Linked DNA regions of Homo sapiens: region 1 is linked to region 2. Evidence: fine-mapped expression QTL. A gene starts in region 2. The other region holds a variant in brackets. All regions are shown on one strand. Distances are between the middles of the regions. Region 1 overlaps PMM2 (phosphomannomutase 2). Region 2 holds the start of PMM2 (phosphomannomutase 2).

Evidence for each region. PIP is the estimated chance that this variant, and not a neighbour inherited with it, causes the effect.
Region 1: its variant is fine-mapped to the expression of PMM2 in whole blood (INTERVAL, PIP above 0.99).

What each region holds. Positions count from the first base shown.
Region 1 is chr16:8,831,968-8,845,291 of GRCh38, forward strand. The region is part of intron 7 of PMM2 (phosphomannomutase 2); the gene reads left to right. Among named protein-coding and RNA genes, the nearest start is that of CARHSP1, 30 kb to the right of the region's middle. RefSeq lists enhancers at 3,950-4,484, 4,485-5,017. The variant A/G (reference allele first, on the strand shown) is at 4,940.
Region 2 is chr16:8,787,469-8,803,993 of GRCh38, forward strand. PMM2 (phosphomannomutase 2) reads left to right here and starts at 10,371. Exons shown (of 8, transcript NM_000303.3): 1 at 10,371-10,480; 2 at 14,331-14,442. The coding sequence starts at 10,415. It overlaps TMEM186 (transmembrane protein 186), which reads right to left and starts at 10,171. Exons shown (of 2, transcript NM_015421.4): 1 at 10,144-10,171; 2 at 7,712-9,122. The coding sequence starts at 10,146. The coding sequence ends at 8,484. RefSeq lists silencers at 4,512-4,691, 12,010-12,059 and enhancers at 9,765-10,459, 10,098-10,147, 10,460-11,154.

The DNA.
Region 1 (13,324 bases), 43 kb after region 2:
GGGAGGTGGCTGAGTTCCCCAACTAGAATCAAGTAACCTTTAGTGCATATGCAAATCCAGCATTTGAAATTTCCGGTTCTCTAGCCTTATTATTCTAGAGGGCAGCCAGCTTTCCTTTCATTTCATTTGGGGTCCGCTTCACTTGCTTTGCAGCTACTCTGGTATGCAAGCTCGACACAGCCCCAAGAAGGCTGCACCCCAGGAAGGAGCCCACCATGCTCTGAGAGTCACAAAGAAAGAAGCAGACCCTTGGCGGGAGAGAAAGGAAGGCCTGAGGCAGGTTGTGTTTGTGATGCAGATGCTCCTGCGAGCCGTGCGGCTCTCTGAAAGCGGGTGGAGCTGAGAAGCAACCCAGAGAGGCTCCTGCAGCCAGGGTCGGGAGGATTTCACCTTCCTGGATGGGAATTGATTCTCCAGACCTAGCTTTATTAAGTGTCAGCGAGTTACATGCACACAGATCACTCAGATTCCACAGACACCTCCCCACCAGCCCCCAGCAGGACCACGGGAGGAGACTCGTGCCGTTAGGCCTCTGTCCCTGCATGTGACATCTGCAGGGAAGGGCAGGCCTAGCAACTGTCAGGGGACTAGCATAAACCCTTTTTGCTTCAGGGGTCTCTTCCCAGGTAATGGCCTCTGTCCTCTTTGCACCCTGGCCGGCTGCAGGAGCCTCCTAACTGCTCCCTTCAATTGCGTCCTCACCCCGCACCCGTTCTCCAGAAAGATCCTGTTGTAAAGTAATCTGATCATGGCCCGGGCTTGCAGGCTTCAGGCGGCTACCCGTGAAATCCCAGGTGCTTACCACAATCTGTGAGGCCCGCTGTGGCCCGGCCCCAGCCCCTGCCCATCCTCCCTCTTCAGCGTCTTCTCTGATGGCCACATGGCCTGTGCCCTCACGTCCCTCAGATGCCAGGGTTCCCTCACCCTCCAGGCCTGGCAGCCCTTCCCTCCCTTTGCTCAACAAGGCGCCCAAGAGCTGTCTGTTGATGACTGGTCTCCCCAGGGCAGCTGTGATGTGGTTTTGGTTTGCGCCGTATCCCCAGCTGCTAAAGCAATGCCTGGCGGGTAGAGGGTTTCGTGCGCGTCCGTGTGAAGAGACCACCAAACGGGCTTTGTGTGAGCAACATGGCTGTTTTTTTCACCTGGGTGCAGGCGGGCTGAGTCCCAAAAGAGAGTCAGCAAAGGGTGGTGGATTATCATTAGTTCTTATGGGTTTTGGGATAGGCGGTGAAGTTAAGAGCAATGTTTTGCGGGCAGGAGTGGATCTCACAAAGTACATTCTCAAGAGTGGGGAGAATTACAAAGAACCTTCTTAAGGGTGGGGGAGATTACAAAGTACATTGATCAGTTTGGGTGGGGCAGAAGCAAATCACAATGGTGGGATGTCATCAGTTAAGGCTATTTTTACTTTTGCGGATCTTCAGTTACTTCAGGCCATCTGGATGTATACGTGCAAGTCACAGGGGATGCGATGGCTTGGCTTGGGCTCAGAGGCCTGACATTCCTGCCTTCTTATATTAATAAGAAAAATAAAATAGTGTTGAAGTGTTGGGGCGGTGAAAATTTTTAGGGGGTGGTATGGAGAGAGAATGGACGATGTTTCTCAGGGCTGCTTCAAGCGGGATTAGGGGCGGCGTGGGAACCTAGAGTGGGAGAGATTAAGCTGAAGGGAGGTCTTGTGGTAAGGGGTGATATTGTGGGGATGTTAGAAGAAACATCTGTCGTATAGAATGATTGGTGATGGCCTGGATACGGTTTTGGATGAATTCAGAAACTAAATGGAATAAGAGAAGGAGAAAAACAGGTATAAAAGGTCTAAGAATTGGGAGGACCTATGACATCTGATTAGAGAGTGCCTAAGGAGATTCAGCATAGTCCTGCCAGCAAAGATTATTTATTTACCTCAAGAGTTTAGAGTGGCAGTTTGGGGATAGCACCAGGAGATATCAGCTGTGATGGCTTGGAGAAACAGTGTAAACCGGCAGTGTAAACAAGAGCAGGGCATGTATGAGTAGTTGAGAATGGCGAATAGGAATATGACTAGACAGGAGATAGTAGGGATGACAAGTTTTGGGGGGCACAGTCTAAGTTGGTCTGGTGTCTGGAATGAGACTGGGGCCTAATAAAAAGGAGCGTCTATACAGGAGCTTACATGGGCTGTACCTTGTAGCATTCTGAGGACAGGCCTGAATTCTGAGAAGGGAAAGTGGTAAAAGTATTGTCCAGTCCTTTTTAAGTTGGAGGCTGAGCTTGGTGAGGTGTGTTTTTAAAAGACCTTTAGTCCATTCTACCTTTCCTGAAGATTGAGGACTGTAAGGGATATGAAGGTTCCACTGAATACTAAGAGCCTGAGAAACTGCTTGGGTGATTTGACTAGTAAAGGCTGGTCCGTTATCAGACTGTATAGAGGTGGGAAGGCTAAACTGAGGAATTATGTCTGACAGAAGGGAAGAAATGACTGCGGTGGCCTTCTCAGACCCTGTAGGAAAGGCCTCTACTTATCTAGTGAAAGTGTCTACTTAGAGTAAGAGGTATTTTAGTTACCTGACTCGGGGCATGTTGAGTGAAGCTAATTTGCCAGTCCTGGGTGGGGGCAAATCTTCAAGCTTGATGTGTAGGGAAGGGAGGGGGCCTGAATAATCCCTGAGGAGTAGTAGAATAGCAGATGGAACACTGAGAAGTTATTTCCTTGAGGATAGATTTCCACGATGGAAAGGAAATGAGACGTTCTAAGAGGCGGGCTAGTGGCTTGTACTATAGCATAGCCTGCCTTTGCTGCTATGTGGCGATTAGGCCTGGTGGAACCGCCATCAATAAATCAAGCGTGATCAGGGTGAGGAACAGGAAAGAAGGAAATATGGGGAAATGGGGTGAATATCAGGTGGATCAGAGAGATACAGTCATGGGGGTCAGGTGTGGTATCAGGAATAATGTGGGAGGCCAGATTGAGGTCCGGGCCAGGAACAATGGTAATTGTGGGACTTAACAAAGAGTGAGTACAGCTGAAGGAGCCGGGGAGCAGAAAGTATATGCATCAGGTATGAGGAAGAAAGTAGATTTTGGAAGTTACGAGAAATGTAGAGAGTGAGTTGAGCATAGTTTGTGATTTTTACGGCCTCTAAAAGTATTAAAGCAGCGGCAGCCGCTGCACGCAGACATGAGGGCTAGGCTAAAACAGTAAGGTCAAGTTGTTTGGACAGAAAGGCTACAGGGTGTGGTCCTGGCTGTTGTGTAAGAATTCTGACCGCACTAACCATGCCTAGGAAGGAAGGGAGTTGTTGTTTTGTAAGGGATTGAGGTTTGGGAGATTAATCAGACACGATCAACAGGGAGAGCACGTGTGTTTTTATGAGAATTATGCCGAGATAGGTAACAGATGGGGATGAAATTTGGGCTTGACTGAAGTAGTGGGGGCTGTCTGTGAAGCCTTGTGGCCGTACAGCCCAGGTAATTTGCTGAGCCTGATGGGTGTCAGGGTCATCTAACTGAAAGCAAAGAGACGCTGGGATGAAGGGTGCAAAGGAATAGTAAAGAAAGCATGTTTGAGATCCAGAACAGAATAATGGGTAGTAGATGGAGGTATTGAGGACAGGAGAGTATATGGGTTTGGCACCACGGGGTGGATAGGCAAAACAATTTGGTTGATAACGCGCAGATTCTGAAGTAACCTGTAAGCCTTGTCTGGTTTTAGGACAGGTAAAATGGGGGAATTGTAAGGAGAGTTTATAGGTTTTAAAAGGCCATGCTGTAGCAGGCGAGTGATAACAGGCTTTAATCCTTTTAAAGCGTGCCATGGGATGGGACATTGAGTGGGGTAAGGGTGATTAGGTTTTAATGAGATGGTAAGGGGTGCATGATTGGTTGCCAAGGAGGGAGTAGAGGTATCTTATACTTGTGGGTTAAGGTTGGGGGATACAAGAGGAGGACACAAAGGAGGCTTTGGATTGGGAAGAAGGGCGGCAATGAGATGTAGCTGTAGTTCAGGAATACTCAGGGAAGCAGATAATTTAAAGTGTCTCGGCCTAATAAGGGAACTGGGCAGGTGGGGATAACTGAAAAGGAGTGCTTAAAAGAGTAATGTCTAAATTGGCACCAGAGTTGGGGAGTTTTAAGAGGTTTAGAAGCCTGGCCGTCAATACCCACAACAGTTACGGAGGCAAGGGAAACAGGCCCTTGAAAAGAAGGTAATGTGGAGTGGGTAGCCTCCGTATTGATTAAGAAGGGGATGGACTTACCCTCCACTGTGAGAGTTACCCGATGCTCGGCGTCCGTGATGGTTTATGGGGCTTCCGAGGGGATTGGGCAGTGTCAGTCTTCAGCTGCTAAGCCGAGATCTGGGAAGGAGTCAGAGAGCCTTGGGCCAGAGTTCCAGGGGCTCTGGGGAGTGGCTGCCAGGTGAGTTGAACAGTCTGATTTTCATGGGGTCCCGCACAGATGGGACGCGGCTTAGGAGGAATCCCGGGCTGTGGGCATTCCTTGGCCCAGTGGCCAGATTTCCAGCACGTGTAGCAAGCTCCTGGGGGAGGAGGTTCTGGAGGAACGCCTGGCTGCTGCGGTTCAGGCGTTTGGAAGTTCTTGTGTGCTGGAGATGTGGCTGGGGTTTGTCTCACAGTGGAGGCAAGGAATTGCCACTTTTTTCTATTACTGTCCACCTTGAAGGTGAGGTTAGTTAAGTCCTGTTATGGGGTTTGAGGGCCAGATTCTAATTTTTGGAGTTTTATTTAATGTCGGGAGCAGATTGGGTAATAAAATGTATATTGAGAATAAGACGGCCTTTTGACCTTTTAGGGTCTAGGGCTGTAAAGCGTGTCAGGGTTGCTGCCAAACGAGCCATGAACTGGGCTGGATTTTTATATTTGATGAAAAAGAACCTAAACGCTATCTGATTTGGGATAAAGAAAAAGGAGCATTAACTTTGACTATGCCTTTAGCTCCAGCC[A/G]CCTTTTCAAGAGTAAATTGCTGGGCAGGTGGGGGAGGGCCAGTCACAGAATGAACTGTAAGCTGGTCCAGGTGTGAGGAGGGGAGGTGATAAAAGGATTATAGGGTGGAGGAGCGGAGGCTGAGGAAGAATTGGAACCTAGCTCAGCCTGGCGAGGAGGAGAGGTCAGATGGGTCTGTAGAAAAGGAATATTAGAAAGACTCAGCGACGCTTGGGGTTGCGACTGAGGGGACAGGTGGGAGGGAAAGAAGGAAGATTTGGGACGAGTTGCACTGGGCACAGAGACTAGGAAGGGACTGATGTGTAAAAGAATGCCTGGACATCAGGCACCTCAGACCGTTTGCCCATTTTACGACAAGAATTATTTAGATCTTGTAGGATGGAAAAACTGAAAGTGCCGTTTTCTGGCTATTTGGAACTACTGTCGAGTTTGTATTGGGGTCAAGTGGAATTGCAGAAGAAAATAAGGCATTTATTTAGGTTTTAGGTCAGGTGTGAGTTGAAGAGGTTTTAAGTTCTTAAGAACACAGGCTAAGGGAGAAGAAAGGAATGGAAGGTGGAAGCTTGCCCATAGTGAAGGAGGTAAGCCCAGAGAAAAGAGTAGAGACACGGAGAAGGGGTGGGGGGTTCTTGCCCTCCAGAAAAGCAGAGAAGGGGTTGGGGCACGGAAATAAGGGATTGGGGCACAGAGATATAAGAGATTGGGGCGCAGAAATAAGGGATCGGGGCGCAGAGATACATGGGGTTGGGGTACTTACCCCTCCCCTAGAAAAGCAGAGAAGGGGTAGAGACACGGAGAGAAGGGGTTGGTGTACTTGCCTCTCCGCCAGAAAAGTGGGACTTGCCGCTAAGGGTGAAGGACCAAGGCAGGCGTCCCTGCATGGTCTGACACCTTTGAAACGTGGGTAAATAATCAGGCGTCCCTGCAGTGATTAAACACCAAGGGAAGGCTGCCTTCCCAGTCTCTGACCGGCGCCGGAGTTTTGAGTCCACAGATAAAATGTGTCTCCTTTGTCTCTACCAGAAAATGAAAGGAATTGAAATTAAGGGAGAGATTGAAGTGTTTCATGCGCGTCCGTGTGAAGAGACCACCAAACAGGCTTTGTGTGAGCAACATGGCTGTTTATTTCACCTGGGTGCAGGCGGGCTGAGTCCGAAAAGAGAGTCAGCAAAGGGTGGTGGATTATCATTAGTTCTTATGGGTTTTGGGATAGGCGGTGAAGTTAAGAGCAATGTTTTGTGGGCAGGAGTGGATCTCACAAAGTACATTCTCAAGAGTGGGGAGAATTACAAAGAACCTTCTTAAGGGTGGGGGAGATTACAAAGTACATTGATCAGTTCGGGTGGGGCAGAAACAAATCACAATGGTGGAATGTCATCAGCTAAGGCTATTTTTACTTCTTTTGTGGATCTTCATTTACTTCAGGCCATCTGGATGTATACGTGCAAGTCATAGGGGATGCGATGGCTTGGCTTGGGCTCAGAGGCCTGACATTCCTGCCTTCTTATGTTAATAAGAAAAATAAAATAGTGTTGAAGTATTGGGGCGGTGAAAATTTTTGGGGGGTGGTATGGAGACAGAATGGGCGATGTTTCTCAGGGCTGCTTCAAGCGGGATTAGGGGCGGCGTGGGAACCTAGAGTGGGAGAGATTAAGCTGAAGGGAGGTCTTGTGGTAAGGGGTGATATTGTGGGGATGTTAGAAGAAACATTTGTTGTATAGAATGATTGGTGATGGTCTGGATACAGTTTTGGATGAATTGAGAAACTAAACAGAAGATCCAAGGTCCAAATAAAAGAAGGAGAAAAATGGGTATTAAAGGACTAAGAATTGGGAGGACCTAGGACATCCAATTAGAGAGTGCGTAAGGGGGTTCAGCGTAATTACTTGCTTGGTTGGCAAGTTTTTGGGCTCTATGCTTGAGTTTTTTTATGTTGTCATACATCAGGCCAGATTGATTTAGGTAAAAACAACACTCTTCATTTAAGAATATGCAGAGTCCTCTTTTTTCAACAGTGAGTAAGCAAGGCCTCGGTGGTTTTGGAGGACAACTGCAGCTAAAGAGTCAACTTGGGCCTGGAGGACTGATAAAGTTTGTGACATGTCTGTGATGCTAGCAGAGAAGTCATTAGACAGGCTACGGAAGGTCATGACAGAGGTTGAAATGCCTGCTATTCCAGTACCGAGAGCAATAGTGGAGGCAGAAAGTCCTAAACCGACCATCAAGGGAATTAGTGGAATGACTCTTCTTTGTTGTGTCGGTGTCATGAGGGGAACAGGGAGCTCTTCGTTCCTATTTGCAAATTGAATTTTGGGAGTAAGGAAGACTAGTGTGCATGTGCCTGTCCAATTAGCAGGTAGACACATGTTAGGTAAAGGATCCACAGAGGAAGAAGAGACCTTGTGCGAGGCAAAACTGGAGATGTAAAGTAAAAAGATGAGGAGTGCTGCAAGGGGTGTCTTGTACCTAGAGTCCTAGGGATCCAGCTAGGGCGGCAGCTGTCAGAGGTTGTAATGGGGACTGATGGGGTAACTGCATAGAGGGGGAGGTTCGATTTTCATGGTGTATGAGAAAACGTTGAGTATCTACAAGCAACCTTTCACTATTATTTTCGGGGCTGGGTAAAAGTAAACAAGAGGAGGGCCTGGGAGGAAGAGTCTGATGAGCAAGGGGAAAGTAGCCAAGGATGGAGTGAAATACAGGGCAAGTGTCTTCCTAAGCAATAATTACTGCTAATGTTTTTAAGTTTGTCAGTATTGATAGCGGGCTTGTCTGTAATATGGAGCTGGAAGGCTCCCATTGTTTGAGTGATGTGTGTAGTTGGACTTTGGAGATGAAGAGTAAAGGAACATCGAGAAGGTGAAAGATTACCTAGGGGAATTCCAGTGGGTCTTTGCCGAGAGATACATATAGGAGCGGCCACAGGCATAGTAGTTTGTGTTGTGAGAGGTCCGAATATGGGGGGAGAAAGGAGAAAGGAGAAAGGTTTTTTAAATAAGTGTGAAGGAGGGCGGCAGCTTGCTGATGTGAAATGTCTGGGGAAGTCTTGCTGGACCTGTCTAGAAAGTAAATGAGTTCTTCAGGAGGGTAAAGGTGAGGGCTGTTACAGGAAGTTCGGAGGTGTAGGGAGATGGGAGATGTTGCCCAGTCTGTCTGTAAGGTGGGGACAGCTGTGTAGGCACTGGAAGAAAGGGAAATGCAAAGCCAGCAGTTGTTCACTAAGGAGGGATTAGAAGCGGCTAGGAGAGAATGGGTAAGGTTGATAGTGTGGTGGAGATAGCTGGGGAGAGGTAGAGGGTGGCATAAGAATGGGAATGAGAATAAGAGTGAGTATAAAAGTAAAGAATAGAACTTCATCAGGGTGGAAATATTGGAGGGTGCCTTGCCAGCAAAGATCATCTATCCACTCTAAGAGGGAGTTAAGAGTGGCAGTTTGGGGATAGCACCAAGAGATATCAGCTGTGATGGCTTGAAGAAACAGTGTAAACCGGCCGTGTAAACAAGAGTAGGGCATTTATAAGTAGTTGAGAATGGAGAATAGGAGTATGACCAGACAGAAGATAGTAGGGATGACTAGTTTTTTGGGGCTCGGCCTAAGTGGTGGGGGTGACTTCGTAAAGCCCTGTTGCAAAAAGTAGGGTAAGGACGAAAAACCTAATAGAATGAAGGGATGTATTAGGCTCATAAGGGTTATGACTGTTCTTCGAAATACGACTGAGTTTAAGGGAAGTAGGGGAGAGTACTTGCAACTTCCAGGAGGAAGAGGAGGGATTAGGCTGGCTGTCCGATGGACACAGCTTTATTCTGGAACGGTGAGCCTAGTGGGGAGGATCCTGCAGGCGGACAGCAGTCGGGGTACTATAGATGACTAAGTAGGGTCCGGTCCATCGAGGTTGTAGAGTTTGAGGAGTCAGATTAACAAGAACTGATCGTCCAGCTAGGGTGTCTTCATATGGCTGGGGATCTGGAGTAGGCAAGAGAAGCTTAGCAGCCTGGCGAATTTCCTGTCTAGCCTGCTGGAGGACTGGAAGACAGTCGCCTAGAGGGCTGGTGTCTGGGATGAGGTTGGGGCCAAGCAAGAAAGTGCGTCCATATAAAAGTTCAAATGGACTGTACCTACCCTGTAGCATCTCGAGAACAGGCTCTAATTCTGAGAAGAGCAAGAAGTAAAAGTACTGTCCAATCCTTTTTAAGTTGGAGGCTGAGCTTGGTGATGTGTACCTTTAAAAGACCATTAGTCCGTTCTACCTTTCCTGAAGATTGAGGACTGTAAGGGATATGAAGGTTCCACTGAATACTAAGAGCCTGAGAAACTGCTTGGGTGATTTGACTAGTAAAGGCTGGTCCGTTATCAGACTGTATAGAGGTGGGAAGGCTAAACTGAGGAATTATGTCTGACAGAAGGGAAGAAATGACTGCGGTGGCCTTCTCAGACCCTGTAGGAAAGGCCTCTACTTATCTAGTGAAAGTGTCTACTTAGACTAAGAGGTATTTTAGTTATCTGACTCGGGGCATGTTGAGTGAAGCTAATTTGCCAGTCCTGGGTGGGGGCAAATCTTCAAGCTTGATGTGTAGGGAAGGGAAGGGGCCTGAATAATCCCTGAGGAGTAGTAGAATAGCAGATGGAACACTGAGAAGTTATTTCCTTGAGGATAGATTTCCACGATGGAAAGGAAATGAGAGGTTCTAAGAGGCGGGCTAGTGGCTTGTACTATAGCATAGCCTGCCTTTGCTGCTATGTGGCGATTAGGCCTGGTGGAACCGCCATCAATAAATCAAGCGTGATCAGGGTGAGGAACAGGAAAGAAGGAAATATGGGGAAATGGGGTGAATGTCAGGTGGATCAGAGAAACACAGTCATGGGGGTCAGGTGTGGTATCAGGAATAATGTGGGAGGCCAGATTGAGGTCCGGGCCAGGAACAATGGTAATTGTGGGACTTAACAAAGAGTGAGTACAGCTGAAGGAGCCGGGGAGCAGAAAGTATATGCATCAGGTATGAGGAAGAAAATGGATTTTGGAAGTTATGAGAAATGTAGAGAGTGAGTTGAGCATAGTTTGTGATTTTTACGGCCTCTAAAAGTATTAAAGCAGCGGCAGCCGCTGCACGCAGACATGAGGGCTAGGCTAAAACAGTAAGGTCAAGTTGTTTGGACAGAAAGGCTACAGGGTGTGGTCCTGGCTGTTGTGTAAGAATTCTGACCGCACTAACCATGCCTAGGAAGGAAGGGAGTTGTTGTTTTGGAAGGGATTGAGGTTTGGGAGATTAATCAGACAAGATCAACAGGCAGAGCACGTGTGTTTTTATGAGAATTATGCCGAGATAGGTAACAGATGAGGATGAAATTTGAGCTTTGGAGGGGGATACCTGATATCCTTTGGAGAGTAAATGCTGAAGGAGCAGAAGTGTGTCTTGTTGAGAAGATTCAAAGGAGGGGCTACAAAGAAGAAGGTCATCAATATATTAAATAAGGTGAGAAGCGGAGGGGTGGAAAGAAAGTAGATCATGAGAAAGAGCTTGGCTGAAGTAATGAGGGCTGTCCCTGAAACCTTGTGGCAGCACAGCCCAGGTAAGCTGCTGGGACTGATGGGTGTCAGGGTCAGTCCAGGTGAAAGCAAAGAGAGGCTGGGACAAGGGGTGCAGGGGAACGCTGAAAGAAGCATCTTTAAGATCAAGTGTGGAATAGTGAGTTGTGGAGGAAGGTATTGAGGATGAAAGAGTGTATGGGTTGGGCACCACAGGGTGGATAGGCAAAACAATTTGGTTGATAAGGCGCAGATCCTGAACTAATCTGTAAGACTTGTCCGGTTTCTGGACAGGTAAAATGGGGGGATTATAAGAAGAGTTTATAGGTTTTAGAAGCCTATGCTGTAGCAGGCCAGTGATAACAGGCTTTAATCCTTTTAAAGCGTGCTGTGGGATGGGATATTGGCGTTGAGCGGGGTAAGGGTGATTAGGTTTTAATGGGATGGTAATGGGCATGTGATCAGTTGTCAGGGAAGGAGTAGAAATGTCCCATATTTGTGGGTTAAGGTGGGGGGATATGAGAGGAAGACGCAAAGGAGGCTTTGGGTTGGGGAGAAGGGCGGCAATGAGATGCGGCTGTAGTCCAGGAATAGTCAGGGAAGCAGATAATTTGCTTAAAATATCTCGGCCTAATAAGGGAACTGGGCAGGTGGGGATAACTAAAAATGAGTGCTTCAAAGAGTAATGTCTAAGTTGGCACCAGAGTTGGGGAGTTTTAAGAGGTTTAGAAGCCTGGCCGTCCATACCCACAACAGTTATGGAGGCAAGGGAAACAGGCCCTTGAAAAGAAGGCAACATGGAGTGGGTAGTCCCCGTTTCGATTAAACAGTGGGTGGACTTACCCTCCACTGTGAGAGTTACCCAAAGCTTGGCGTCCGTGATGGTCTGGGGGCTTCCAAGGCGATTGGGCAGCGTCAATCTTCAGCCGCTAAGCCAAGGAGTCAGTCAGAGAGCCTTGGGCCAGAGTTCTAGGGGCTCTGGGAGTGGCTGCCAGGTGAGTTGAACAGTCCGATTTCCAGTGGGGTCCCGCACAGATGGGACACGGCTTAGGAGGAATCCTGGGCTGCAGGCATTCCTTGGCCCTGGTAGTCAGATTTCTGGCACGTGTAGCAAGCTCCTGGGGGAGGAGGTTCTGGAGGAACGCCTGGCCGCTGCGGTTCAGGCATTTGGAAGTTCTTGTGTGCTGGAGATGTGGCTGGGGTTTGTCTCACAGTGGAGGCAAGGAATTGCAACTTTTTTCTATTATTGTACACCTTGAAGGTGAGGTTAATTAAGTCCTGTTGTGGAGTTTGAGGGCCAGATTCTAATTTTTGGAGTTTTATTTAATGTCGGGAGCAGATTGGGTAATAAAATGTATATTGAGAATAAGACGGCCTTTTGACCTTTTAGGGTCTAGGGGCTGAGGAAGAATTGGAACCTAGCTCGGCCTGGCGAGGAGGGGAGAGGTCAGATGGGTCTGTAGAAAAGGAAGATTAGAAAGACTCAGCAACGCTTGGGGTTGGGACTGAGGGGACAGGCGGGAGGGAAAGAAGGAAGATTTGGGACGAGTTGCACTGGGCACAGAGACTAGGAAGGGACTGATGTGTAAAAGAATGCCTGGACATCAGGCACCTCAGACTGTTTGCCCATTTTACGACAAGAATTATTTAGATCTTGCAGGATGGAAAAATTGAAAGTGCCGTTTTCTGGCTATTTGGAACTACTGTCGAGTTTGTATTGGGGTCAAGCGGCATTGCAGAAGAAAATAAGGCATTTATTTAGGTTTTAGGTCAGGTATGAGTTGAAGAGGTTTTAAGTTCTTGAGAACACAGGCTAAGGGAGAAGAAGGAGGAATGTAGGAAGGTTGCCCATAGTGAAGGAGGCAAGCCCAGAGAAAAGAGAGCGTAGAGACATGGAGGGAAGGGGTTTGGGGGTTCTTACCCTCCAGAAAAGCGGGAAAGGGGTTGGGGCATGGAAATAAGGGATTGGGGCACAGAGATACGAGTTTGGGGTACTTGCCTCTCCCCCAGAAAAGCGGGACTTGCCGCTAAGGGTGAAGGAGAAGGGGTTGGGGGGTTCTTGCCCCTGCCCCAGAAAATCAGAGAAGGGGTAGAGACACGGAAAGAAGGGGTTGGGGTCCTTGCCCCTTCCTCAGAAAAGCGGGACTTGCCGCTAAGGGTTATGGACCAAGGCAGGTGTCCCTGCGTGGTCTGACACCTCTGAAACGTGGGTGAATGATCAGAGGCGTCCTTGCAATGATTAAACACCAAGGGAAGGCTGCCTTCCCAGTCCGTGACCGGCGCCGGTTTTTTGGGTCCACAGATAAAACGTCTCCTTTGTCTCTACCAGAAAATGAAAGGAATTGAAATTAAGAGAAGGGAGAGATTGAAGTGTGGCGCCTAGATTGAAAGGAGAAAGACGGTGAGGGATAGGGAGGTTGGAGAAGAGAGTAAAAAGAGGCTGCTTATTGGATTTGAAATTGGTGAGATGTTTCTTGGGCTGGTGGGTCTGAGGACCTGAGGTCGTAGGTGGATCTTTCTCATGGAGCAAAGAGCAGGAGGATAGGGGATTGATCTCCCAAGGGAGGTCTCCCGATCTGAGTCACGGCACCAAATTTCATGCGCGTCCATGTGAAGAGACCACCAAACAGGCTTTGTGTGAGCAACATGGCTGTTTATTTCACCTGGGTGCAGGCGGGCTGAGTCCGAAAAGAGAGTCGGCAAAGGGTGGTGGATTATCATTAGTTCTTATGGGTTTTGGGATAGGCGGTGAAGTTAAGAGCAATGTTTTGCGGGCAGGGGTGGATCTCACAAAGTACATCCTCAAGAGTGGGGAGAATTTCAAAGAACCTTCTTAAGGGTGGGGGAGATTACAAAGTA
Region 2 (16,525 bases):
CCGTCTCTACTAAAAACATATAAATTAGCCAGGTGTGGTGGCACATGCCTGTAGTCTCAGCTACTTGGGAGGCTGAGGCACGAGAATCGCTTGAACTCAGGAGGCGGAGGTTGCAGTGAGCCAAGATCGTGCCACTGCACTCCAGCCTGGGTGACAGAGCGAGACTCCGTCTCAAAAAACAAAACAAAACCAAAAAAAAATTGTTAAAGAGTCACAGTTTTCTTTTCTTTTTTTTTTTTTTTTTGAGACAAGAGTCTCACTCTGTCGCCCAGGCTGGCGTGCAGTGGTGCAATCTTGGCTCGCAGCAACCTCCACCTCCCAAGTTCAAGTGATTGTCCTGCCTCAGTCTCCCCAGTGACTGGGATTACAGGCATGCACCACCAACCCCAGCTAATTTTTTGTCATTTCTAGTAGAGACGGGATTTCGCCATGTTGGACAGGCCGGTCTCGGACTCCTGAGCTCAGGTGATCCGCCTGCCTCGGCCTCCCAAAGTGCTGGGATTACAGGCATGAACCACTGTGCCGGCCTGTTTTCTATATTCTGTCCTTCCCCTGGGGAGGCAGTGGAATGACCCAGCTCTACTGTTTTCTAGACGGGTGATCGTGGGCAAGTCACTTCAGTTCTCTGAACCTTATTCTGCCAAAAAAGGATGATTATAGTATTGCTAGCTAACATTTATTGAGTGCTTGCCTGGACTGAGCACTATTTTAAGTGCTTTTCATGTAGTAAGTCATGTAATCCTCCCCACAATCCTGGGTAGGTGGTGTTATTATCTTCACTTCACAGAGGAAGAAACCGAGGCAGAGAAAGAGGTTATACAGCTGGGAATTGGCAGGGCTGGAATTCAAGCAGGCAAGAAGTTTGGCTTCAGAAGCCATATGCTTCACCCGAACACTCTACCACCTCTCTGGGGTTCTCCAACTCAAAGTGTTGCTGGCAGATTAAATGAAATCCTATAATAATTGCCCAGCACACAGTAGGCATTTAATACATGCTGGTGTCCTTTACTGCTTCTTCTCCATGAATAGCTGAGTGTGTCTCATATATAGTTCTAAAAGGCAATATTATATTTCTGTGAGAGTTAACTTCCCACTGGTAAATATTAAATCTACTTCACACCATAGGTGCAAGCCCAGCTGAATCTGAGAGTGTATTTCAACTGTTAATCAGTAAAATGAATGTTTGTGTCCTTAGAGTTGGTATGAACATGGCCATACCTAGACGGTACTGGCCTTGCCTGATGGGACTCTAATCAGGCAAGATTTTACAATTGAATGGCGCAGGATCAAAACAAGGCCATTAAAAGTTGGACTCTGCCCGGAGTTCAAAGGGACCCTGTTGCTTTCTATTTAGGAACTCACGAGTCTTGCAGTCATAAAGCAGCAACATAAAGCAAGCTCCCAACTCTAGTTCTCCAGGCAATTCATCCAGGCTGTCCCCTGCAAGCTGCTCAGCCCACCAGATCTGCTTTGGGGAGCGCATTAAACATGGTTATGCAATGATTGGGTGGCGGATGCCATAGACATCTGGCCCTATGACAAGGTAAGTCTCATTTTTGGTAACCAGCATAGGAAGGAGGACAACAGCTACCACTGGGCTGTGCTTCCCACGTGCACACTGGGAGCATCGTCACCAGGTCCCCAGTTGATGCAGACCTCATGTGTGGATGGTGGCCATATGAAAACTGACATGTGGCTGGGCACAGCAGCTCACGCCTGTAATCCCCACCCTTTGGGAGGCCAAGGTGGGCCGATCACTTGAGGCCAGGAGTTTGAAACCATCCTGGCCAACGTGGTGAAACCCTGTCCCTACTAAAAATACAAAAATTGGCTGAGCGTGGTGGCGTGCGCCTGTAACCCCAGCTACTCAGGAGGCTGAGGCAGAGAATCACTTGAACCCAGGAGGCAGAGGTTGCAGTGAGCTGAGATTGCACCACTGCACTGTAGACTGGGTGACAGAGCGAGGATCCATCTTAAAACAAACAAACAAACAAACAAACAAACAAACAGAAAAACAGGCCAGACCCAGTGGCTCACGCCTGTAATCCCAGAACTTTGGGAGGCTGAGGCAGGTGGATCATGAGGTCAGGAGTTCAAGACCAGCCTGGACAACATGGTGAAACCCCGTCTCTACTAAAAATACAAAAATTAGCCGGCGTGGTGGTGGGTGCCTGTAACCCCAGCTCCTTGGGAGGCTAAGGCAGGAGAATGGCTTGATCCCCGGGAGGCAGAGGTTGCAGTGAGCCGAGATCACACCTGTGCACTTCAGCCTGGGCGACAGAGCAAGACTCTGTCTCGAAAAACAAAAAAATAAAACGGACATGCTCCAGACCACCCTAGGCATCTAAATTATTTACATGGCCACAGCATGGCAGGGAGACGGGGGCAAAATCCAGACAAGAAGGAAAGCCACTTGACAAGGGACAAACATGGTTAAATCACAGCTGCTTTAACTGAGTTTTCAAAGACTGCATGTTTCCTTCCATCTACTCAGCTTCTGAGTCCAGAATTGGAATTCATGGTTGAGAAACTTTCCTTTGCCTAGAAAGCTGGTGGGAGGAGAAGGGAATGGAAGAACAGACTGTTTATTACAGCGTTTTTCTTCATTTGCTAGGATGAATGATGTGCTCATTATACCCCTCTCACCCTCAATCCTCTCCCGGGGGTAGCCACTCTTCACAATTTGCAATGTATGTATGTATGTATGTATTTGAGATGGAGTCTCACACTGTAGCCCAGGCTGGAGTGAGATGTTGCGATCTCCGCTCACTGCAATCTCTGCCTCCTGGGTTCAAGCAATTCTCCTGCCTCAGCCTCCTGAGTAGCTGAGATTACAGGCGTCTGACACCACCCCCAGCTAATTTTTGTATTTTGAGTAGAGATGGGGTTTCACCATGTTGACCAGGCTGGTCTCGAACTCCTGACCTCAAGTCATCCACCTGCCTCAGCATCCCAAAGTGCTGGGATTACAGCCACTGCACCTGGCCAACATGTACTTTTTAAAAACACAAATAAGATCACACAGAACTACACTGTTCTGTGACTTGCTTTTTTTTTTTCACTACCTACCTCGTGGTCTTTTCCACAGATACAGTACAATCTCACTCTTTTTAAAGGTTGCATGTATACTACAATATTAATCTACCAACATTTACTTAACCATGTGGCCTACTAATGGAAACTTAGATTATTCCCAGTTTTTACTTTTCTTATTTATTTATTGAGACAGGGTCTCACTCTGTCACCCAGGCTAGAGTGCAGTGGCACAGTGATGGCTCACTGCAGCCTTGAACTTCCGGGCTCAAACAATTCTCCTGCCTCAGCCTCCCAAGTAGCTAGGACTACAGGCATGTGCCACCATATCCAGCTAATGTTTTATTTTTTCTTTTGTAGAGATGGGGTTTCACTATGTTGACCGGGCTGGTTTCGAACTCCTGGTCTCAAGCGATCCTTCCACCTCAGCTTCCCAAAGTGCTGGGATTACTGGCATGAGCCATCATGCCCGGACTAGTTTTTTTGCTATTGGAAATATTTCAGTCAACATCCTTATATGTACACTTCAGTATTTCTGTTAGATTATTGCTATATTCTGAATGTTTATGTCACCCCCAAATTCATATGTTGAAACCTAATTTCCAATGTGATGATATCTGGAGATGGGAACTTTGGAAGTGGATTAGGTCATGAGGGTGGATCCCTCATGAATGGGATTAGTGCCCTATAAAAAATTTCAGAGAGCTCCCTCACCTCTTTTGCCATGGGAGACCACAGCAGGAATAAGCCTGTCTACCAACCAGGAAACAGGCCCTCCTAGACAATGAACCCGCTGACGCATTAATCTTGGATTTCCCAGCCTCCAGAACTGTAAAAATTAATGTTGCTTGAGCCATCCAGCCTACGGTATTTTTGTTACAGCAGCCCAAGTGAACTAAGACAATCATGTTATAATTGTTGTTAAAGGGGGCAACTGCCAATATATCTACCACCCAAATCTAAAGACAACTCCCATTTTCTGAGAAGCTGCTTTGCCATCTATTGTATGGCTTTGGGTGATTCTCAAAACTTGTAGTACTGTGGAATAACCTGGGAAGCATAAACAAACAGATGCCCAGGTTCTACCAGATTCAACAAGGGTTGGGCACACTTAATGTTTTTTTTGTTTTTTGAGACAGGATCCCGCTCTGTCACCCAGGCTGCAGTGCAGTGGCGCAGTCTCAGCTCACTGCAACCTCTGCCCCTCAGGCTCAAGTGATCTTCTCACCTCAGCCTCCCCAGTAGCTGGGAGTACAGGCATGTACCCTACACCCAGCTAATTTTTCACATTTTTAGTAGAGATGGGGTTTCACCATGTTGCCCAGGCTGGTCTTGAACTTCTGGTCTCAAGCGATCTGCCCACCTTGGCCTCCCAAAGAGTTGGGATTACAGGTGTGAGCCACTGCACCAGTCCTTTTATTGCTTCTGTTGTTGACTTTGGTTTTTTGGGGGCAGCTCTCAGGTACTACCCTACTGGTGCATGACAGAAGCCCTAACACATTTCCTGTTATCTGGTGGACATCTGTGATTTTAGCTTAGGGATACAGCGTTAGAATAATGCATTTGCTCTGTGTGCCCTCTGCTGGTACTGCATGAGCAGACCACACATGGAATGCCTGCATGGGTGAGAATCTGGTCTCACCTCCCAGGGCAAGCCCCTTGCAGACTTAACAGAGTGGTGATTCTCCAAAGGCAGCGATGGTCAACCATGTTAGAATCACCCAGGGAACCGTGAAAATAAAAATGCCTGGTCATGGGCTTCGACAATGGGGTTTTTAAAACACTCTCCAGGAGATTCTACACATAAAGCCAGTGTTAAGAACCTATTCTTTGGGCAGAAAATTGGCCCAGGAACACAAAGTCCACAGAACCATGTGTCACTCTGGTGTCTTCTGTTCTAGTAATGTATTTCAGAAATTCCCAGCCTGCCTGAATCTCAGAATTGGCTTCAAGCTGGTCAAAAAAACAGATCCTGGAAATCCACCCCAGACATAATCAGAATATCCTGGGGTGAGGCTCACTCAGGTCATTACTTACAACCCAACAGAGAGAATTTTTGGTTTTAATGAGGTTAAGGTCAAATCATTATGACTTCTTAAGACATTTTTTAGCCACAGGCTTTATCTCTTCATGGGGAAGGGAGTCACAGTCACTGAAGGAACTGACAGGCAGGTGAAGGCAAGGTACAGAAGGAATGAACAGCCACGTGTAACTGCTATGCACATGTCTCTTCTATATAATTGAATCTTCACTACACTTCTTGAGCATAAATAGTAAAACCCTGTTATACCGAGAGGATACTGAAGGGGAGGCGGTTAGTTCTCTTTGCAGGCATCTAGGGAGAAAGCCTTCCAGGCAGAGGGAACTGTCAATGCAAAGGCCTTAAGGCTGGAATATTCTCGATTACTGGAGAACAGCAAGGCAGTCGTGACCTGGGGGAATGATCTCCACAGAGGTGCGGATGAGGGAGGGAAGGGGAGGGTGGATTAGGCCATCAGCCTTCACAGCAGTGACGTGATTCTGTTTTTAAGCATCACTTTGACAGCTGCAAAAACGGACTCAAGTAAAGCAAGGATGGAAGCACAGGACAGAAGCATCGAAGTGAAGGGCCAGGCGTGGTGGCTCATACCTGTAATCCCAGCACTTTGGGAGGCCGAGGCAGGTGGATCCCTCGAGTTCAGGAGTTCGAGACCAGTCTGGCCAACATGGCAAAACCACATCTCTACTAAAAGCAGAAAAATTAGCTGGGCATGGTGGTGGGTGCCTGTAATCCCAGCTACTCAGGAGGCTGAGGCAGGAGAATCGCTTGAACCTGAGAGGCGGAGTCTGCAGTGAGCCAAGATCACACCACTGCAACCCAGTCTGGGTGACAGAGTAAGACTCCATCTCAAATTTAAAAAAAAGGAAAAGTAACCACTGTTGACAAGAATGTAGAGAAACAGGAACCCTTGTCTGTTGCTGGTGAGAATGTAAAATGGTACAGCTGCTGTGGAAAAGTGGCAGGTCCTCAAAAATAAACAGAATTACCACAGGATCCAGTTAATCCACTTCTCAGTACGTACCCAAAACAACTGAAAGCAGGGACTCAAACAGATACTCGTATACCAGTGTTCACAGCAATAGCCAAATGTTCATTCATCAGTAGTCAAAAGGTGACGACAACTCAAATGTCCATCAACAGATGGACAAACAAAATGTGGCACACACAGAGAATACACACTGCACCCGTAAATATATTTAACCATAAAAAAGAAATAGCACTGACATATGCTACAACACGGATGCACCTTGACAACACTACACCAAGTCAAAGAAGCCAGATACAGGCCAGCCGCACTGGCTCACGCCTATAATCCCAGCACTGTGGGAGGCCGAGGTGGGTGATCACTTGAGGTCAGAGATTCCAGGTCAGCCTGGACAACATGGTGAAACCCCATCTCTACTAAAAATACAAAAATTAGCCAGGCTTGGCGTCAGGCACCTATAATCCCAGCTACTTGGGAGGCTGAGGCAGAATCATTTGAGCTGGTGAGGCGGAAGTTGCAGTGAGTGGACATCGCGCCACTGCTCTCTGGCCTGGGAAACAGAGCGAGACTTCAACTCAAAAAAAAAAAAAAAAAAGAGCCAGATACAAAGGGTCACATATTGTATGATTCCATTTATATGAAATATCCAGAACAGGTGAATCCAGAGGGACAGAAAGCAGGTTAGTGGTTGCCAAGGGCTGGAAAAAGAAGGAAATTATTGCTCAATGGGTATATTAGTTCTGTTTGGGATAATGAAAATGTTCTGGAAATAGATGGTGGTGACGGTTGTACAACATTTTTTGTTTTGTTTGTTTTTGAGATAGTCTGGCTGTCTCCCAGGCTGGAGTGCATTGGTGCAATCTCGGCTCACTGCAACCTCTGCCTCCCGGGTTCAAGCTTCTCAAGTAGCTGGGAATACAAGTGCCCACCACCATGCCCAGCTAATTTTTGTATTTTCAGTAGAGACAGGGTTTTGCCATGTTGGCCAGGCTGGTCTTGAACTCCTGACTTCAAGTGATCCACACGCCTCAGCCTCCCAAAGTGCTGGGATTACAGGCATGAGACAGTGTGCCCAGCCTGTACAACATTGTTAATATACTTAATGTCCCTGAATTGCACACTTAAAAATGATTAAAAGGATAAATTTGTTAGGTGTATCTTGGTATGGTTAAGAAAAATGGAAGGCTACACAATAAAAAAAAATATTTTTTTTTTGAGACGGAGTCTCACTCTGTCGCCCAGGCTGGAGTGCAGTGGCGTGATCTCGGCTCACTGCAAACTCCGCCTCCCAGGTTCACACCATTGTCCTGCCTCAGCCTCCCGAGTAGCTGGGACTACAGGCACCTGCCACCACGCCCAGCTAATTTTTTTGTATTTTTTAGTGGAGACACGGTTTCACCCTGTTAGCGAGGATGGCCTCGATCTCCTGACCTCGTGATCCGCCACCTTGACCTCCCAACGTGCTGGGATTACAGGTGTGAGCCACCGCCCCCAGCGATAAAACATTCTTATTGACTTTCGAGTGGCAAAATAATAAAGATCATGCCTTCCTTCCTCTTTACTGTGTTACAAATTGTATAATGAACATATATTATTAATTATGTGGGGCAATGTATATAACTGGCTTAAGTTTATAAAATAACGTACCAGCATCCGGTGCATTTGGCTTTATTACACTGCAGGGCCATCCAAAGCAAGAGCCTCTAGACCTCTGGGTGGTGAACAAATCTCAACTGGGGTTTCGTGCCTACCTGGACGACATCTGCTCGTCAATGTGTAGTTAACATCCTGACAGACCCTTCTGCCGCTGGATATGTGAGGGGCACAGCACAGGGCTCTGGAAGTCCCTGCTGACTGCTCGAAGCCTTTCTCCCTGCTAAAACCTCTGACCAAATGCTTAATAATATCTGCTGTAGGCTGTTGAGTCTGCCACACGTTTGACATTTATTGTTTATTCCCACACCCATCCCATGAAACAAGCAGGACTTTCCATTTTACAGATGTGAAAACCAAGATTCAAAGAGACTCAATAACCTGCTCCAGGACAAATGACAGAACTGAGACTTCTGACTCCAAATCTTACGCTCCCCCGCCACACCTCTTTGCCTTTCTCTTTCACACCAATGGACTCTATGGGTGACCTTGGCATAGGTTCTTCTAAGAACTGGCTCTTAACAAAAACTTCTGGCCATTATCTGACTGAATGTCACAAACAAGTGCTGTAAGAACTTGCTTAGAGCCTTTTTCCTAAACCTGTACACCAGCTCTTGCCTTGTGAATTTATTCACCACAAAACACATGTTCCCAGGGGCCCAGGCAAAGTCTCCAAGTACCCAGTCCCCTTTCTTCAGCCTTGCCCACACCCTCAGCCTTCCTGTTAATCCAGGCGACCCAGGGTTACCCAGAGGTCCAGGTCCCAGTTGTTCACTTGAGCATCTGATGTACCCCAAACACCTGTGTGAAACGCTCTCTGTCCAGGATGCGTCCATAGCGCAGGGTGACGTAGAAGGTCTGTTTCCCACTGTACCGCTGGATACGCACAAACATCTCCTGAGGCCGGTCCTTGGTTTCTGTCAGGGGAATCACATCTGCCATGGGACAGTATGTGTCCTGCCGCCAGCCCCAGAAGTTCAGATGGGCCACCCGCAGCATGGTGCCAGACTCATTCAGATACAGGATACCAACCAGTCTCCGTAAGAAATAGCTCATCCAGCACAGCATGGTCAGGGCAAAGCCCGATATCCCACTCATGAGGCACACGGTGTTGAGAGTGAGGAGGCCCTGGGAGTACAAGTAATAGCCTGGTGGCAAAGCTACCACTGTCAGGGCAGTCTGTGCCAACTTCAGTCGTGACAGGAACCCGAAGGTTCTGATGGCATCAAAACGGTAAAACATCCAGAATTTCTCAGTCTCTGCGTTTGGTAGTTTCTCCTTCGAGATGGGTGAACTGCTGCCCACCCACCTCTTAGGATCCTCCTGCCCACTGCAGCACCACAGCCCATGGAGAGGCCTTTCCCACACAGCTTTTCCCCGAAACCTACGCACAGCTCGGAGAAGGGCAGCCTGAAAGGGAGACAGTAGACCATTTCTCTCATGGAACTCAACCACATTAATCACACGGTGAACATCTGCAAAGCACCATACTCTAAGGCTTCTGCCAATCCTGCAAGGTAACCGTTATTGCCAGACGAGGGAAGGGTAAAGCCAGATGCTATCTCATGTGGGCATCACAACAGCTATCTAAGATAGTTATCACTATTTCCACTTTACCACTAGGGAAACTAAGCCCAGAGAGGGTAAGATATTTACCAAAGATCACACAGTCAGTGAGTGCAGCAGAGTCCTCCTTCCACCAGGCAATTCCAAATAAATACAGGAAAGGAGGTGCGGCCGTCATTAATTCAAAACATATCCAGGGAGGACAAACTCTGGGCTGGACAATGTATCCACAAGGGGGTGTGAACATTTCCCCAAGCAGGAAACTAAATAATCAGTGTCTTAGTGGGGAACTCGAGCAACAAATCTGTGAGATATTTATTCCAATAAACTTTCTAATTCTCTGTTTGATTCATATGCTATCTTGGGTGCTGGAGGGAACTGCTGCTTTCTCTTAGCCTAGTCTGGGGAAGGGGAAACAGCGGAGAAGGAGAAGGAGCGAGGCAGGGAGGCCCCAACACGTAGCACAAGGGTATTACTAGGTGGGTAGTGAAGCAGTAAAAGCTCTTATTCCAATTCTGGCTCCAACAGTAATTTGTGAGCAAATTACTCCACACCCCTGAGATTCGGTTTCTTCGCCTTTCAAAATGGGGACTCAGAACACAGTGAACCAGAGGATGGTTTCAGAGTCCTCAACTTAGTACCTAATGCACTGTGAGAGCTCGGCGAGTTTTAGCTACTACTACTGTGCGCATGTGACCCAAGGAGGGCAAGAGAAAGCCCGGGAAAAGCGAACTGTAACACACGCCAGAGCTTCCTCCCACGGATCCTCGGAGTCCGAAACCCGAGCGTCGGGCCTGCCCGCCCCAGCCCTGACCCCGACCCCAAAGAGCATCACCCCCTCAAGGCTCGCCACCCGCCTCCTTACCATGGCCCCACCACCTGCTGCCGGAAGTAAATCCCACCGGCCCCCGGAACCCCTAAGAGCGCATGCTCGAATGTACAAGGCGGGCGTGATCTGCGTTGCACCCTGGGAGTTGCGGTCCAGGAATCGTGGCTGCCGCTACTCCCAGGCGTTATGGGAACGGAGTCCCCTCCTCTTCCCGACGTGCCCTGCGACTCAGCGGCCGAACCCGGAAGTTCCGGGCCGAGTTCCTCGTGCCAACGTGTCTTGTAAGGTGCGGCTAGAAACTGGGGACATGGCAGCGCCTGGCCCAGCGCTCTGCCTCTTCGACGTGGATGGGACCCTCACCGCCCCGCGGCAGGTAAGTGGCGGCCGGCGGGCTGCTGGCAGCCGACGCGGAGCCCGTGCTGTTCCCAGTTGGGGCTATCGACCACCCAGGGTAGGCGCCAAGGGGTGGCTAAGGACCGCCTACGTCCTCACGGCGCTGAACCCTATTCTGGGTGCACTGGAGGAATGAGAGGGAGGCCCTAACCAGCTCTTGAAGAGCTCTGGTGCTTGGAAAGATGAGACGGGGCTGAAGAACTCTTAAGAGCAGGAAACTTGTGCTAGGTTGGAAAATGTAATCTGGACTCACCGCTAGTGCTCGGGACTGATAGACCAGGATTTCAACCCAAGATCAGGCCCCCTTATCAGCTATGTGTCGGCCCCAATCCTGTAACCAATGGGCTGTGCCGTGAGTCATGATATTAAAAACAGGTTTCCAGGTCAAACCGACCTAGTGGAGTCTCATCTTCACCTCTTGACATCTGTGTGACCTTCAGCGAGTCATTAACCTCTCTGAGCCTCAACATCTACAGCTTTAAATGGGGATGTTACCTGTTCCATATGGTGTCTGTGAGGATCAAATGAGATTGTGTAAGTTCTTGAAAGTATGTTGGACACAACACACTAGGCCTCAGTAAATAGTAGCCACCTCCACCACACCCATCTCCAGCCCCTGCAATGGACTAGGGAGATGGAGGAGCCCTAGGTTATTACAGGCTGCCCGCTGAGAGCCTCTTTGGGCCCTTGGAAACTTGCTTTCCACTTTCAGATTTTGCTGCTACAGGCACAGATAAGTTTCAGTTACGATCAGCCTTGAGGTGAGGCTCTCCTGGCCCCTTTTCAGAAATTGGCCACTGAACACTGGCCATTTCAACTTGAGACTGGACCCCAATGGTCTCACTATCCTCAGCTTCTACCCTCACCCCTCATAGTTTTCGCTTGGTGGTAACAATGGTGTGCTCCAGAAGTCCAGGTCAAATGCGTGTGACCTTAGACGTATCATTTTGCCCTTCTCAGCCACAGGTTTGATTTACCTAGTGATGACGCTCAACTCCCAAGTTCTTCAAAGGCTTTTTCTGATTCTGAAATTCAGTGATCACACACTTGGGTTTGTTAAAAGCCCATAGTGGTCTAAAACTCCGGTCCCCAATTCATTTTTTGTAAAGGGCCATATAGCAAATACTTCTCTGTCTTTGCTGACTATGTGGTCTATAGTAACCACTCAACTTTAGTGCAAAACCAGCCATAAACCCTATATAAATAAGAGTGGCTGTGTACCAATAAAATTTTATTTATTTATTACAAAAACAAACAGCTGCCCAATGTGGTCTGTGGGCCATAGTGGTCTAGGGTTTACATTGCCACCCTTTTTCATATCACTGAACCCTCTCAACCTTCCTCCATCTTTCTTCCCAGGTAGGATAGTTGTTATTACCGTTTTAAACATAAGGAAACACACTCAGTGAAGAACTAACCTCCTCAGTTTCACACAGCCAACCTGGTACAAGTCTCTGGGCCTCAGGATATTGGTTCCTGTCAAGTTTGCCATTTCCTATCTGTGCTAAGGTGGAAGCTGTTCTAGTCACTGGGTATGCCATTCAGGAAAGTGCTTCTGATTTTCTGATTTTCACAGTTCTGACTCTTTTTTTTTTTTTAAGACAGAGTCTCACTCTGTCACCAGACTGGAGTGTAGTGGCCCAATCTCAGTTCACTGCAACCTCCACCTCCCAGGTTCAAGCAATTCTCCTGCCTCAGGCAACCAAGTAGCTGGTGCTACAGGCAGGCACCACCACGCCTGGCTAATTTTTGTATTTTTAGTAGAGATGGGGTTTCACTGTGTTGGCCAGGATGGTCTCTATCTCTGGACCTCGTGATCCACCCGCCTCGGCCTCCCAAAGTGCTGGGATTACAGGCGTGAGCCACCGTGTTCTGACTTTTAAAGGCCACTCCTCCAATTCTAGATTCTGTCTAATAGGTCCAGATTCCACTGTGAGAGTAGAAAAGATTGCACTCTATTACAAACCCTTCTGTACAATTTTAATCACATTCATGTATTACTCTAAAAAAGTTTTTTAAAGAAAAATCATTGAACTCCAAGTGTTTATATACTGAGGTTGAATTAAATGGTTTTTTGTATTTTCTAAATTTCTAGTAAAAAGATATTCAGCCGGGCACGGTAGTTCATGCCTATAATCCCAGCACTTGGGGAGGCTGAGGCGGGTGGATCACTTGAGGTCAGGAGTTCGAGACCAGCCTTGCCAACATGGTGAAACCCAGTCTCTACTAAAAATACAAAAAGATTAGCCGAGCATGATGGCGGGCGCCTGTAATCCTGGCTACCTGGGAGGCTGAGACAGGAGAATCGCTTGAACCCAGGAAGTGGAGGTTGCAATGAGCCGAGACCACACCATTGCACTCCAGCCTGGGTGACAGAGCACGACTTCGTGTCAAAAAAAAAAAAAAAAAGACATTCAGTGTAAATGTACAACTGAGATTGCTCAAAGTGCTGAGTTATAAGACTTGTAAAAATACATTGTGATGTGTCTTAATGTAGGGCTATTTTTTCATCTTAGTTTATAACTTTTTTAAAATTATCACACAGTTTGGAATTTACCATAAGATTATACCACTAAGACCACTCTTTCTAGATAGGAGCTTTGCTTTTAGAAGAGACTAAAAAATCTAGTTATCTTACTCTTTTACATTTTTGTTTTGTTTTGGGTGATTGCAATAAAATCAATTCTAAGCTTCTCCTTTTTTTTTTTTTTTTGTTTTGTTTTGTTTTGTTTTGAGACGAAGTCTCGCTCTGTGACCCAGGCTGGAGTGCAGTGGCACGATCTTGGCTCACTGCAACCTCTGACTCCCGGGTTCAAGTGATTCTCCTGCCTCAGCCTCCCGAGTAGCTGGGACTACAGGCGCCCACCAGCGCGCCCGCCTAATTTTTGTATTTTTAATAGAGACAGGGTTTCGCCACGTTGGCCAGGCTGATCTCGAACTCTGACCTCAGGTGATCCACCCGCCTCGGCCTCCTAAAGTGCCGGGATTACAGGCATGAGCCTCCATGTCTGGCCCTAAGCTTCCTCTTTAATTTCATTATGTTGTTTTATTTTAAAATCAACAACTTAAATCCATAAATGGAGTATAGTGTAGCATTTAAAAGGAATGATGAGCTAGATCTGTGTTGGCATGAAAAGATCACCACAGCATAGTGCTGAAAAACCAAAGTCCCTGCACAGGACATGATTCCATTTATGTTTCAAAAATAAGACCTATTTGTATATGTGCCCATAGATGGGTATATAAATGCATAGAAAAATAGCTGGGACAGTGCACAACAGCTACTAACATATTACCTGTGTTTAAAATTTGGTAAAAATAACACTTAAGTTTATTCTGGTAAAGATGCCCCCCCAGTTACAACTAAAATATTTGAACTATGTACAGAGCTGGTAACTTAATTGGCATGTATGAAAATAAGGCTTATAGACCTGGCTTATACCTGTAATCTCAGCACTTTGGGAGGCCAAGGCTGGTGGATCTCCTGAACCCAGGAGTTCCAGACTGGCCTGGGCAACATGGCAAAACTTAGTCTCTACAAAATATAAAAAAATTAGCCAGGTGTGCTGGCACATAACTATGGTCCCAGCTACTCAGGAGGCAGAGATAGGAGGATCACCGGAGTCCAGGGAGGTCGAGGCTGCGATGAGCTATGACCATGCCACTGCACTCCAGCTTGGGTGACAAGTGAGACCCTATCTCAAAAAAAAATTTTTTCTTTAATTTTTAAATAAGAAAATAAGACTTATGTACTTGTGTTACCCTTAGAGTTTTGGTCTCCTGATTATTGTGTGGCTTATGACTGTTGTATTTTCTTTCTTGAAATTTAGAAAATTACCAAAGAAATGGATGACTTCCTACAAAAATTGAGGCAGAAGATCAAAATCGGAGTGGTAGGCGGATCGGACTTTGAGAAAGTGCAGGAGCAACTGGGAAATGATGGTAAATGATGGGTTGCTAATTACATCTGGTAAAAGATTAACTTCTTATGAGGATATTGTTGCCAAGTATCATAGGCTGCCCTAAAACCTTGTCCCCATATGGCGGGCTTTCTGCTTCCTTTTTTGGGAAACATTTTCTTGGCCTTTGCTTTTCCTCTGCTTTTAATCCAGTACATTTCTGGAGTTACTGATGGAGAACTGGGTACTCAGATGTGTGAGTAGATTCACCTAGAAAGGTCAGTGGCTGTATCTGCACATGATAATCTCTCTGCCTGGAATACTTCTTGCTTGTACCCGTTGACAGCCCTTCTAGCCCCAGTCAGACCGGTCTTCATATTGTCCCTCTGACAGCCCCCCTCACCTCCCCATCACTGAAACAGAATCTCCAGCACAGGACCCCGAAAAACCAGAGAGGCTTATTGACCCCTTCACTGGAGAGTCTGACTTGATAGGTCTGTGGAGCCTGGGAATCCTATTTCAGTGAGTACCTCTGAGAGATTCTAGTGTACAACCTTGCTAATGTAGCATTCTGTAATTATTGTAAACTATCCGATTATATGTTTTTGAAGAGCAGGAGTATGGGTTATTCATCTCCATAGCCACAGGGCCTCCTGGCCTGTAAGAAATTGTAAGTGGATGCCAGGCGCGGTGGCTCACGCTTATAATCCCAGCACTTGGGGAGGCCGAGGCGGATGGATCACCTGAGGTCAGGAGTTTGAGACCAGCCTGGCCGACATGATCAAACCCCATTTCTACTAAAACTACAAAAAATGAGCTGGGCGTGATGACGGGCACCTGTAATCCCAGCTACTCAGGAGGCCGAGGCAGGAGAATTGCTTGAACCCAGGAGGCAGAGGTTGCAATGAGCCGAGATCACACCATTGCACTCCAGCCTGGGCAATAAGAACGAAACTCCGTCTTGGAAAAAAAAAAAAATTATAAGTGGAGAGGTGGATGAATTGATTGTTCTTTTAACCCCTGTTGTCCCCAGAGTCCTCACATCTTGGAACCAGCTCCTCTAGAGCAAGATTTCTCACCTTCGCACTATTGATATTTTGGACCAGTTAGTTCTCCATTATGAAGGCTGTCCTGTGCATTGTAGGGTCTTTAGCAACATCCCAGGCCTCTACCCACTAGATGCCCACAGCATACACACACGCACACATACGGCTATGACTACCAGAAATGTCTCCAGACATTGCCAAATGACCTCTGTGTAAAATTACCCCCGTTTGAGAACTACTGTTCTCAAAGATGTAATATGTTACAGTCCAAATCTGTATGGACTGTATTTATAGGATCACCATTACTAGAAGAGTAATCTCTGCAATCTCTTTAAAACTCTCTCTTCCACTTCCACTTCATTTTCCTGGTAGATCTCCTACTTAGAAATGCTATAAACCGCATACTGGGGATCACGAAGCCCTGAAAATCCTGTTACCTGCTCATGATCGCCCTTTCTGCATCTAGTTGTGTATTTAACCACTTGCTCAGGGAAGTTTTGTGTAGTGTAGCATAGTGTCTGCACCTGTCAGAGACATGCAACAATAGAATCAAAACATTCACAGGCCAAAAGACAGTTGAAGGCCCACCTGTATCAGAATCACCTGGGAAGCTTATTAAAATATGAGTGTGGGGTCCCCACCCAACACATAGGGGATCTGCATTTTAACAGGTACCTGAAGTTTGAGAATCCCTTCATTAAGGTTGACAACATGGATAGTTTCCAAACCAAACTGATTATAAGAATCACTGAAGAGCTTTTTTTAAAATTTATTTTATTTATTTATTTATTTTTATTTTTTTGAGACAGTCTTATTCTCTGGTGCAGTGGCACAATCTTGGCTCACTGTAACCTCTGCGTCCTGGGTTCAAGTGATTCGTGTGCCTCAGCCTCCGAAGTAGCTGGGACTACAGGCGCCCACCAGCACGCCCGGCTAATTTTTGTATTTTTAGTAGAGACGGGGTTTTACCATGTTGGCCAGGCTGGTCTTGAACTTGCGACCTCAGGTGATCTGGCCACCTTGGCCTCCCAAAGTGCTGGGATTACAGGCATGAGTCACCGTGCCTGGCCACCAAAGGTC